Regions from separate parts of the Homo sapiens genome. Here region 1 is linked to region 2. Evidence: fine-mapped expression QTL. A gene starts in region 2. The other region holds a variant in brackets. All regions are shown on one strand. Distances are from middle to middle. Region 1 holds the start of LOC105379091 (a long non-coding RNA gene). Region 2 holds the start of ELL2 (elongation factor for RNA polymerase II 2).

The links.
Region 1: its variant is fine-mapped to the expression of ELL2 in whole blood (TOPMed, PIP 0.90).

What each region holds. Positions count from the first base shown.
Region 1 is chr5:95,859,762-95,865,142 of GRCh38, forward strand. It overlaps LINC01554 (long intergenic non-protein coding RNA 1554), which reads left to right. Exons shown (of 3, transcript NR_026936.1): 3 at 1-372. It overlaps LOC105379091 (a long non-coding RNA gene), which reads left to right and starts at 2,023. Exons shown (of 3, transcript XR_001742813.2): 1 at 2,023-3,985. RefSeq lists enhancers at 2,207-3,406, 3,662-4,163. The variant G/A (reference allele first, on the strand shown) is at 2,787.
Region 2 is chr5:95,959,409-95,964,766 of GRCh38, forward strand. It overlaps ELL2 (elongation factor for RNA polymerase II 2), which reads right to left and starts at 2,443. Exons shown (of 12, transcript NM_012081.6): 1 at 2,167-2,443. The coding sequence starts at 2,313. It overlaps LOC101929710 (a long non-coding RNA gene), which reads left to right and starts at 2,593. Exons shown (of 5, transcript NR_130776.1): 1 at 2,593-2,628. It also overlaps a transcript of CAST not described here. RefSeq lists silencers at 1,857-2,266, 2,337-2,576, 2,532-2,999 and an enhancer at 2,295-3,052.

The DNA.
Region 1 (5,381 bases), 100 kb before region 2:
AATAGCACCCTGGGTTTACATCAAGAGAAGCACCTGGAGAGAATTAACTCGGGAGGAGGTGGGGGCATGGGAAACCTTTTCATCTCCAAGAGCGGGCAGGAACAGCAGCTGGCCTGAACTTGAAGGTACACCAGGTAGCTTGCGTGGGCCAGGAGAAGGTGATTCTCTTCTATGCCTCTCTCCAACGCCCTGCTTCTGATGCTGCTCCTCTACCTGTATTGAGGGGAAGATACATCCCTAAGAAGTTCCCTGAACCCCATTCTTTGTTGTGGCTAACTGGTCCCCTTGGAATTTTTCTACTAATTTTCAATTCCCCCTCTCACCTGGTGAAATCTTGAATCTTACTGTTCAATAAAAGTTCTTCTACCGAAATTTCTATACCACGTTGAATTTTTTGTGTTTCCTTTGTTTTTAGTTCTTTGGGAGTTTTACTTAGAAAAAAAAGCCTCTGGGGACTAGATAAGGAAGGAAACCTTCATGTGGACCCTCTTGAGCTCTGTTTTCTTTCCTGGCCTCACTGGTGTGGGCTCTCTGGCTGCCCTGCTGATCTCTTGCTTTACTGCATTTGGGTGAGGACTGAGGAGAGGGACAGGAGTGTATTCACTGGATACTATTCAGACTAAAGGATTAGATGTCGTAGGTGAATAAGCAAGAAAGCAAACACATAAACAAAACATCTGAACGTTTTCAATCCAAGTGGAGCAGAATTTAGCTTTTCCAGCTAAACTGCCCCACCCCTGGCACCCAGGGAAAATGGTGCTCGTATTGTAATATATTCTCCCATGGATGCATGCAATATTATGAGTATTTTTTGCCTTGTGATGTAAATTCTCTTTCTTCCTCACTCAGAAAAACATATTGTAGTTGAAAGGAAAAAAAAGAATTCTGGCCGGGCGCGGTGGCTCATGCCTGTAATCCCAGCCCTTTGGGAGGCCCAGGCGGGTGAATCATCTGAGGTCAGGAGTTTGAGACCAGCCTGGCCAACATGGCGAAACCCCATCTCTACTAAAAATACAAAAATTAGCCGGGCATGGTGGCAGGTGCTTGTAATCCCAGCTACTCAGGAGGCTGAAACAGGAGAATCGCTTGAACCTGGGAGGCAAAAATTGCAGTGAGCCGAGATTGTACCACTGCACTCCAGCCTGGGCGAGACTCAGTCTCAAAAAAAAAAAAAAGAAAAGAAAAAAGAATTCTGATCCTTTTTGAGTGTGTGTGTGTATGTGTTTTATGTGTGTGTGAGAGGACACAAATTCAAACTGAAACTTTGCTAAGTAATAGGTTTTAACTGATCTGGATACATCAGGGTAGTGAGAACAGTAAGTCTGGAAAAGAAAACAATAGTTATCAATACACATACACTCTCCCATACATAGAACAATGCCTAGGTCTATTGCATTTTAATATCCGCCGAATAGGTAGCATGAATTCACATCATTTCAGCGATGGGGAAATGGAAACTCGCAGAGAGCTTAACTGAATTTCCTGAGACCATGGGATGTCAGAAGGGCCACTAAATCTTTCAACTTCCAACTCATACTTTAAACTCCTGCCTCTTATCCTTTTTGAAGTGACTGGGGAAGACCAGGTACAGATCTGTAAAATGCTTCATTCCATTTTCAGAGGAGCTGAGGTCAGGTGCTTCCTACAGTCGAGGTCTCGCCAAGAAGACGGTGGCCACGTTCCTCAATTCTCAGGCGAGTGTTTTGATGCCTGGGTGCTTCTGCCTGATGAGCCCAGCATTCATGAAGTACATGTGACAAGAGGACGGCTGGAATATTGCTCAATATTTTCAGGCCGACGGCACTGGCTGCATGTAATTTGAGAGGAGTGTAGAATGTCAGCCGGACTTTTATGACGCACCCCTCTCCTCTTCCTGAGAATTGTTTGCATGTGGAGATTTCCTGCCTATATTTTTAGCGTCAAATTTTTTTGTGGTTGCTCAAGTACCTTCGGCCATGTTTTAGTGACTTACACAGAAGCCCTGATGCCCCTGATAAAACTGATGACCATCGAATGGAAAGAAGTCAGTGTAGAAAGCCCAGGCATTGTCCCATAGCTGGCCCTGTGTGTTTGCACTGATTCCTCAGAATAAGTTTGCAGATAGCTTAACTTCCAGAATTCCTGAGTTTCACTAGTCCCCCTTCTTTATGATGAATTGGAAAAAGGGTATATTCTGGGATAAAGCAAGAGGAAACTGGGTGCAGCAAAGATCCCTAGACCATTTTTCCCAGTGGCCCATTGCTCCTGCTGCTTTTTTCATACCAGCTGAATCTCCCTAAACCCCACGTCTGCGGCAAAGTCTTCGTGGTGAAACAGGTGAGTCACACTTTTCTGCTTCTCTGCAATTACAAATGTTATCACCTCATCTGACACAGAGAGGGTGTTGGTTGGAAATACGCATTAGGAATAAGCTCTTTGGAAACAGCAAAACTGCCTTCATGAAATGAAGACTTTTTTTTAGAAAGTCTGGAGCTAAAGTTATAAAAATAAAGAGGCGTCATCTCCCTTTCCTTCTCCTACAATAATGGAAATGAAATATCAAAGTAAACAGCACCACATCCATGTCCTCAGCACATGTGACTCGCTAACAGAACCATGCCAGCCACCCCATCCCTTCTCTCCCATATTCTCTGCTGTTCTCACTGTCTCTCAAGACCTGATTTAAAACCACCTTCACTAAGAAGTCTTCCTGTCCCCCTTCTGGTCCTTCACGGAATATTATTTTGCTTCTGAAACTTAAAAAAACAATTTTGTTCTCAGGTCATTCTCTGTGTACATCCCATCTC[G/A]TCCATCCTACAGATTAGATGTTCTTCCAGGGTAGAGGCGACCCCATCTCATGTCTTTTTATTCTCCCTCTGCTTTTTATTCCCACAGGCAGTCTTCAGTACAAGAAGCGTCAATCTCAGATCTTACTCATTTCCAACCTGTACCAATCAAAGGCCCTCCCAGCCAAGATAAAAGCAAAGTCTCCCTCCTCCAGAGCACATGGGAATGGCCCCCCAGTAGCTGGGGCATGCAAGCTAATGAAGTTTCATCTTCCACCTCTATCCAAATATGACCTTGCTGATACCATCTCCTATTAGATGACAAATCCGGATGTTTCTATTGCATGGTTGTTATTTGCCACATGCTTCCTGGACAAGTTTCTAGGTAACCTTAATGTCTGTGCTTCTGGGGAAGGAGGAGTAGAAAATAACTCACCTCTTCAGTAAGTGGTTTTAAAAATATAACAGTGTTTAAAAGCTTTTAGAGAGCAGCTCTCCTTCCGGCTGCTCCAGCTCTGTTTGCTTTGTGATAGGAGCCCCCGTAACACTTCGTGCTTGGCAACATCTGACGAGGACAGAAGGCAGGTTTAAAGCTGAGAAGATTGATTTTTCCTTTGTAGGGCTTTCCATGAGGGGCGTGGGAGAGAAGTCACTTGGGGAAGCAGTGGTCAGTGAGGTTTACTTCTCCATATGCTCTGCATTCATGTGTAAGGCTAAACAAACGTGTTGTCTCCGCAAGCAAATCCCACACCACAGAGAGGAGCAGTTTGTCCTGGAGGTCCTAAGGAGGTGACCAGTGACCTGGAGGGTAAAAGGTTGGGGCTCCTGAGACCTTTCTTCCAACTCTCATTTCCATCCTAAACTGGCAGGGGAAATGTACCCAAATTGCCTGTGTGTTTCGATTTGATGTGGACACACTGTGACCACTCAGGATCGCTCTGGTGCTGCTGAACTCCATGGTTCATATTAGGCCCGACTGTCTAGTTTTAGAAAGTGGGAGGAGATTTCCCCTCTGCCAGGGCTTGGGGTTTATGTTCCCCAGAGCATTGAGCAAGAGCCTCATGTTTACAGAAATCTCAGGCCCCATGATTTCTTCCTGTCAGGGTAGAAGGAGAAGGAGTAGGCACAGACTGTGGAGTAGATCTTGCCACTTCAGTCCCTTTGTTCTTGCCCAGCATGAGGTTACCAAGGAAAGGATACCTGGGGCGCTGGGGGTGAGGGTATGTATTGGTTGTTTGAACTCTGAAAATATAATTTTAAAATTGGCATTGTAAATCAAATCATTAGGTCTTCTGCATATAGTTTTATTTTTTCTAAAACTTCATAAAGCTGTCAAAAATACCTACACTATATTTTAAATGCTGTGGGCAATATAGTTTTTAAAATTTTATTGTGAAGTGCTGTTGTAATTCCTTTAAGAGATGTACACTGTCTACCTGGTTTATTTTGTGTGCAAATATGTATATATACACTGTATATATACATATACATATACACACAACTATATACATACATGTATATATACACACATATATATTTCAAAGTTTTTTGAGATCTAGTGCTCACACAGCATTTGGTAGTAACTAACAGCTGCTAAGTCAACTCCTAACCTTCTCAACCTCATCTGGTGTGACTTAGAGCAGAAATGGTCCAACCAGCGCAGCAACCATGTACCCACCCAAGTTGACTCCTATGGGCGTAATGTCCACAGGTGCTTCTGCCTTGGTGTGTCAACTCCATCTTACAATTTAGGAGAATTTGGTTACATAGCACCTACTAGGTCTTAAAAATAAAAATATCAATGCCCATTTTATATAGTGGGTCTATGTAGGATCTAGTGAAAATACGCACTTAAGTCTTTTAGAAGACAGGAGAGATTGGGGTCATACAATTTTTTTTTGCATATGTGAAGAGAGTAAATACTTAGTGTTCATCAACTCCATGAAAATGAAGATTCCAAACTACCACAAAACTAAGGAATAAAGCTTTATCATTTGGCTTTAAAGACTCTGAAAGTACTGGGTTCTATTATTGCCTTAATTGGGGTCATGCAAGGGTGGAACAATAGGAGCTAAATAGTTCATGTTAAGGCAGATCAAGGCTTGACAAGTTCCAGATTTCCAGCAGGATTTAACTCCTGAGTCACATCAACTTGGGGTACAAGATTCACTGGGAAGCAGGGAGGAGCAAAAATCAGTCTGTAGAACTCTAGAAAGCAGTACCTGATAAAGACCTTTAAAGTCTCCATGAATCAAAGATATTAAGATTCGTTTTCTGCTACCCCATCTTCAAAATGAAAGCTATTCAAAGCCACAACATAAATATAAAAATTTCTCCCATGGTAACCACCTGGTTGATTAAAATATGTTTAATTTTTCCTTTTCTTCTGTGAATTGCTGCTGCCCTAAGTATGTACGTGGTCTGCCTGTTAGCTTCCTAAGCACATCTGGCAAGGTGGGGTAGATGAAGAAGGGCAGCTATGGAGGTGGGCATTTGGGAGAATGTAAATGCAAGGCTGGGGACAGCTCTCACTGGAGGGTAGCATGACTGCCCAGCCAAGGGCCAAACTATAAAGGGACAGCCCCGGCAAGTGCTCCAGAGTAGGTGGATTTCACA
Region 2 (5,358 bases):
AGACCTACCTTCTTCCCACTGCCATTCCTTCCCACGCCCTTCCCTTGGAACAGGCAAGCTTATCTTTCCATCTTGCAAGGCTGAGTTTCTCTCCAGAGTTTCTCTCCACTGTCTGCTTCTGTCCCTCTGCCTGTGTTTCTGGCTTCCCCCATATGGGCCTCCCACTCCGTCTGATGCTGGTCTCTTCACTGCAGGTGCACCTATCTAAGAGTAGCTATTGGCACATGCAGTTTTCTATTTCTTGTATCTCTCCCAGCCATTCTTGAGATTTTCTCTCGAGATTTCACTGTATGTAGGACGGTACCTTTCTCCCTGTGCATGCACTCCTCCCTGACGCCCCCTCACCCCACCACACAAAGTCTGTGAGTCCTTTTCACCATATGCTTCTCTGGTTAGTAACACAAGTGTCCTAGCACGTACATTCATGTGTCCACCCAATTCTGTGAGTACCTTCCTAACAATACACTCACCTCTGAGCCTCCACTGCTGTTTACAAATACCCTATCATGTGAGTTCATTTTCTATCCAAAGCGTGCACAACTAATGCCTTCCTCTGTGTGCACACTTATGGGGTGGGGGGGCTCTCTGAATACACTCCCAGTAAACCAGGGTTCACACCTCTCCTGCCGCTCTGCCTCAGACTCTGCCTTCGCTCTATGTATTTAAAGTGCCTGGCACTAGTGGGAGCTCAACAGATGTCAATTCTTTTCCCCACTTTTAGCTGAATAACTATGTGAATCTGTGTCTCGGTGTCCTTCTGCCCCTCTGTCTGTTGTACGAGACCGGTTGGAGTGTGTTCCTCAGTACCGAACGGGCTATTTGTAAGATGCCCCGTGGGTTCTATCTCCCTTCCGACTCTCTCCTCTCCTGTAAAACGTTACAGGTTCCCCCATATGGCATATCCCTCCCTCACGCGATGTATCCACTCCGGTCTCCCACAGTACTGCATGTCCATAAACTGTTTCCCCATGCACCCTGGTTACCGCGTCCCTTCTCGGTGCTTCCCTGTCTCTCCCATTTTTTTTCCAACATGAAAGCGTCTGGATTTGTAGTCCAATTACAGTGTATGTGCGCCTATCTGAGCCTCTCTCTGTACTGGAGGGGTGTGTGTGTATATGTGTGTGTGTGTGTCCATGGGCTTCTCTCGAAAACGAGGGGTGAGAGGCCCGAGTCTCTGCCCGGGATGCATTGTATCCTCCCCACACCTTCTGGCTCTGGCTCGTTCCCCGTTTACACTTCCCAGAGTCAGCCCAAGACGCCGGGAGCTTTTTCGGGTACGTTGAGCGTCCGTGAACCTCTCTCTCCAGAACCCGATGTCTTGCTCCCGGGGAGCGCTAAGTGTGCGTGAGTCCTCAGGTCTCTCCCCAGGGCACTGTGTTGGTTTGTGTCCGTCCTGGACGCGGCGCGTCTCCAGTAACGCGATGCGCCGGTGTCCCGGAGTCCCTGGGAATGCAGGTGTGTCCCCTCCCCCCCCGTACGCGAAGCGCCAGTGTCCCCGCCGTTCCAGTGTGCGCCGCCCCCTTACACGGACTGCCTAAGTCCCTATCTCTATGAGTACACCGTGTGCCCCTCACCATGCGCCCGAGTCCCCATCCCTTCGAGCACACAGTGTGTCCCCTGATACGTGGAGCGCCTGTGTCCCCAAGTCCCTGGGAATACAAGGTCCCACCCCCACACGCGGAGCGCCTGTGTCCTGTCTCTGAGGATCCACCGTGCCTATGTAACTGGAAAACGCGGGCAGCTGGTGCCCGCGAGTCGTCCCTGGTTCCTTGCCCATACGCTGCTCGCTACCCTCCTTCCCCGCCGAGGGTAGCGTGGTCATCTCACTTCTCTTATCGGGGCCTCTCTCCCTCCTTGGGACCCAACAAGCCAGGAAATCCTCGGGGGCCGTCGGAAAGTCCCGCAGCGGCAGCGCAGCCGACCCAGGGCTGCGGCTGCCTCGGCCCCGCCGCCAGGGGCCGCCCGACTGCCCGCTTCCCCAACGCCCAGGCTAGCCCGGGACCGCGGCGTCAGCCACCCTGCCCGGCCCTGCCCTGCCTGGCCGCTGCGGGCGCTGACGGTAGCAGCTGCCAGCCACGGCTCCGCCGGCCCCGCACCCGGGCGCGGCCAGGCCGTGAGGGGTGCGCTCTGCCTCTCTGAGCCCAGCCTGCCGGCCGGCCCGCTCACCTTGTGGCTCTGGTAAGTCTCGAGCGCCCGGATCGCCGTCTCGGTGAGCTTCACATGCAGTACGGTGATGTTGTCCTGCCCCAGCCGTCCGCACGACAGCCCATAGCGCTGCTCCTCCCGCAGGCCCCCTGTCCCCCCCGCCGCCATCTTAAACTCCCCGGGGTGCCGCCGCCGCCGCCGCTCCGGCTCTAGCCTCCACTGCGGCCGCGGCTGCTTGGGCTTCTGCAGCCGCCGCCACTGCTAGGGCCATCCCGCTGCTGACGTACTGTCATATACTGCGCGGAGCCAGACCTCGGACTGCCACCGCCGCCACCCGCCCCACCCTCCGGCCCCGCGCCCCGCCCCGGGCTCGTCTCATTGGTCTTGTTCCCTTCAGAACCGCCCTCATCGGCCGCCCTCCACTCTCACGGGGGCGGGCCCAAAGTCACTAGAGTTTTGCTCCTGGGACGGGACGTCCGAGAGGTAAGAGGCTGACGTCTAGGTGACGCGCCAACTTAATCATGTCTGACGTCACGTCTGGTCGTCTTGGCTAGCCGGCCGAGATTGGCCAGGCTGGCTTGGGGACTCCCCTGCTAATTGGAAGTCCAGGTTGCCTGGTCTGGTTACCTGGAGTTGGAGCCCCGCCCCTGTGGGGGATAGTAGTGAAAAGTCAGAATTGGGGAATCTCGCCCTACGCGGGTGGTCCTTGGAGAGGAGGATCTCCACCTCCACTATGTAAGGGGATGGCCGTGACCAAATAAGGACTTTGTTCCCCGACGGCTGCGGAAGCTGTGGAACTTGGTGCGTGCGTGTGGGGGAGGACGCAGCAGGAGGACTCGCTAGAGAGCTGCTCCTCAAAACTCCTAGTACTGTAGTTGAGCAAACGGCATTGGGAGGAAACTGCTCACTCTAAACTTGAAGTTATCGGGTGCCACACGCAGAGCTTATAAAAACAAAAACAAAAACAAAAACCCTTGAAATTAGTGAGTCGACTCTTAGATGTAGGAGTTGTGTTAGATCTTGTGGAGCATCTTAAGGACAAAATCACGCGGGAGGTTAAATGCCTTTCGTATGGTGGGCATGGTATAATAGAGAATTGAGCTTCGAGGTCTTTCCTACGCCATGCCCTGTTGTGATTCTCTGGGATCACAACTGGTGGGGATGATATCTCCTTAAAAAGGACTCTAGAAGAAGAGTAAAACTGGCATTGATCTAAATTAAAAGAAACCTCGACAATTCTCATTCTCTAATTCAGTTTGAGTATTGTCCTTTTTATTTGATAGGGCTGTGTGAAAACCTAGCTAGGGTTTAAAGGTAAGAGGCTGTCGAGGTTAAGCGAAGGAGATGGGGGCGTGAGGGGCGTGCAAAGGCCTGGCATACTTTCCATTCCATCCACAGGATGCTTCCTGTGTAGGCGTGGCTAAAAGAGGGAGCCTAATCTGGAGTCCCTTTCAGATTGTGTGTGGATAGACTGACAGATGGGTTCCTGTCAGAGGATGGATTAATTGGTTGATCAGAAACACCAGATAAAACAAACCATTGAAAGCTTTCAAACTGTTGAAAGGCAGTTTAAAAAAGTTCTTTTAATAAAAAAACTGAGACGCTTGTTTTTACCCTCAGCTTATAAAACCATGTTCTGTTCTACTGGGATTCCCCGGGAAAGTTTATAGATATTTAATCAGTATTTTTCATTATTTTAAATGGATTAGGGCCATGATTCCATGTCCTCCCCTCCCAATAAATGCCTTCCCCACCGTACGGGTACACTCCTTTTTGATTCAGACCTTCAAACATAGTAGGTGTATAATGTGAATTACAGAATGAATTGGATTAAGTGGAAACACCTGTATTAAGTGTTACTCCATCACAGGAAAACAGTTTGTAAATTGACTTAATTTCAATCCACTAAGATTGGCTAGCTGTTAAGACGTGATTAACGCTTGCTAATTTCATTTACTTTAGTGATACAGTGTTATCTTAAATTCATGTAGTAGAGATATTAAGGTAATCATCAAATTGGATTAAAAAGTTTACTCTTAGAAGGGAAATAGAGGCTTTACTACCTAGTTTTCTCCGCTTTCCAAAAGTAGAAACCTTATTCAAATAGTTCATCTCTAAGCGGACTATAATCTAAAAATAATTCTGTACTTGAACTTTTCTTTTCTCTCTCTCTTTTTTTTTTTTTTTTTTTGATAGTAAAGGACTGAGCACATAGCTAAAGCCTTAATTATTTGGGAGGTGAGGGGGAAGGGAGGTTTGACCGGAACAAGTAAAACCTGTATCCCACTGCTTTTCCGGTGAATGTGGGTAAATCCCCACCCACATGATATCCTAACTTGGCCTACTCTTACTCAGAATTTCTGATGACATCCAAGCGGGTGGGGGAGGAGTAAGGATGGTTTTCGTTGTAGTTTTCAAATATCTGACCTGTAGCTTCTTACTAGTAATTGACTTTTTTTAAAAATTATAATAGGAAAATTTTTCTCATGCCCTATTTTAGTGGGTAACAAATCTTTCACGGATTAATATATTATTGTAGTGAGTTAATGGTTGTTTGTATTTTTCCCCTTTTGAGCTTTTCAACTGTGGAAGGAGGAAATGATCAAGTACAAAGTAATATGGTAATCTAGCAGTGTCTTTTCATTGATGTCTCACAGGCATAGTACACATTACGCCTGCCTGAATCAGATGGTCAAGTTATGATGCTGGTTAGGATAATTTATTTTGAGGAGGCTGATGAAAGGTGCTTTTTGGGAAGGTTGCCATTTTATACATATTTTCTGTATCTTTATCTGGTTTAAATAATTAAATAATCATTGAATACCAGTTAAGTATAACATGCGGTAGAGGATTTAAAAATTAAACTGTAAAGTCTCTAGAGGAATTTTCTGTTTCAGTGTGGCAAGTGAACCAGTATAGTCAAAGCAAAGCAATTAGAAAATTAGTAAATGCTAATTTGGACGGTGTTGGTGATAAGCTCAAAAATTCAAAGAAAGGAGAAGTCTGAAGAGGTTTAATGGAGGTGATAGAACTTGAACAGCTCTTGAGGGTTGAGTAGATTCTAGATAAGTTGGAGGTGGTATAGATGGAGACAGCCCAACTAAAAATGATCTTCATGATGATTCCAGGTGGACACATTAGTTTTATGAAGGAGGAACTGAGACCCCCATTTATTTAAAAGCAACCTGCCTAACATAACCAGGAGAGGCAGGG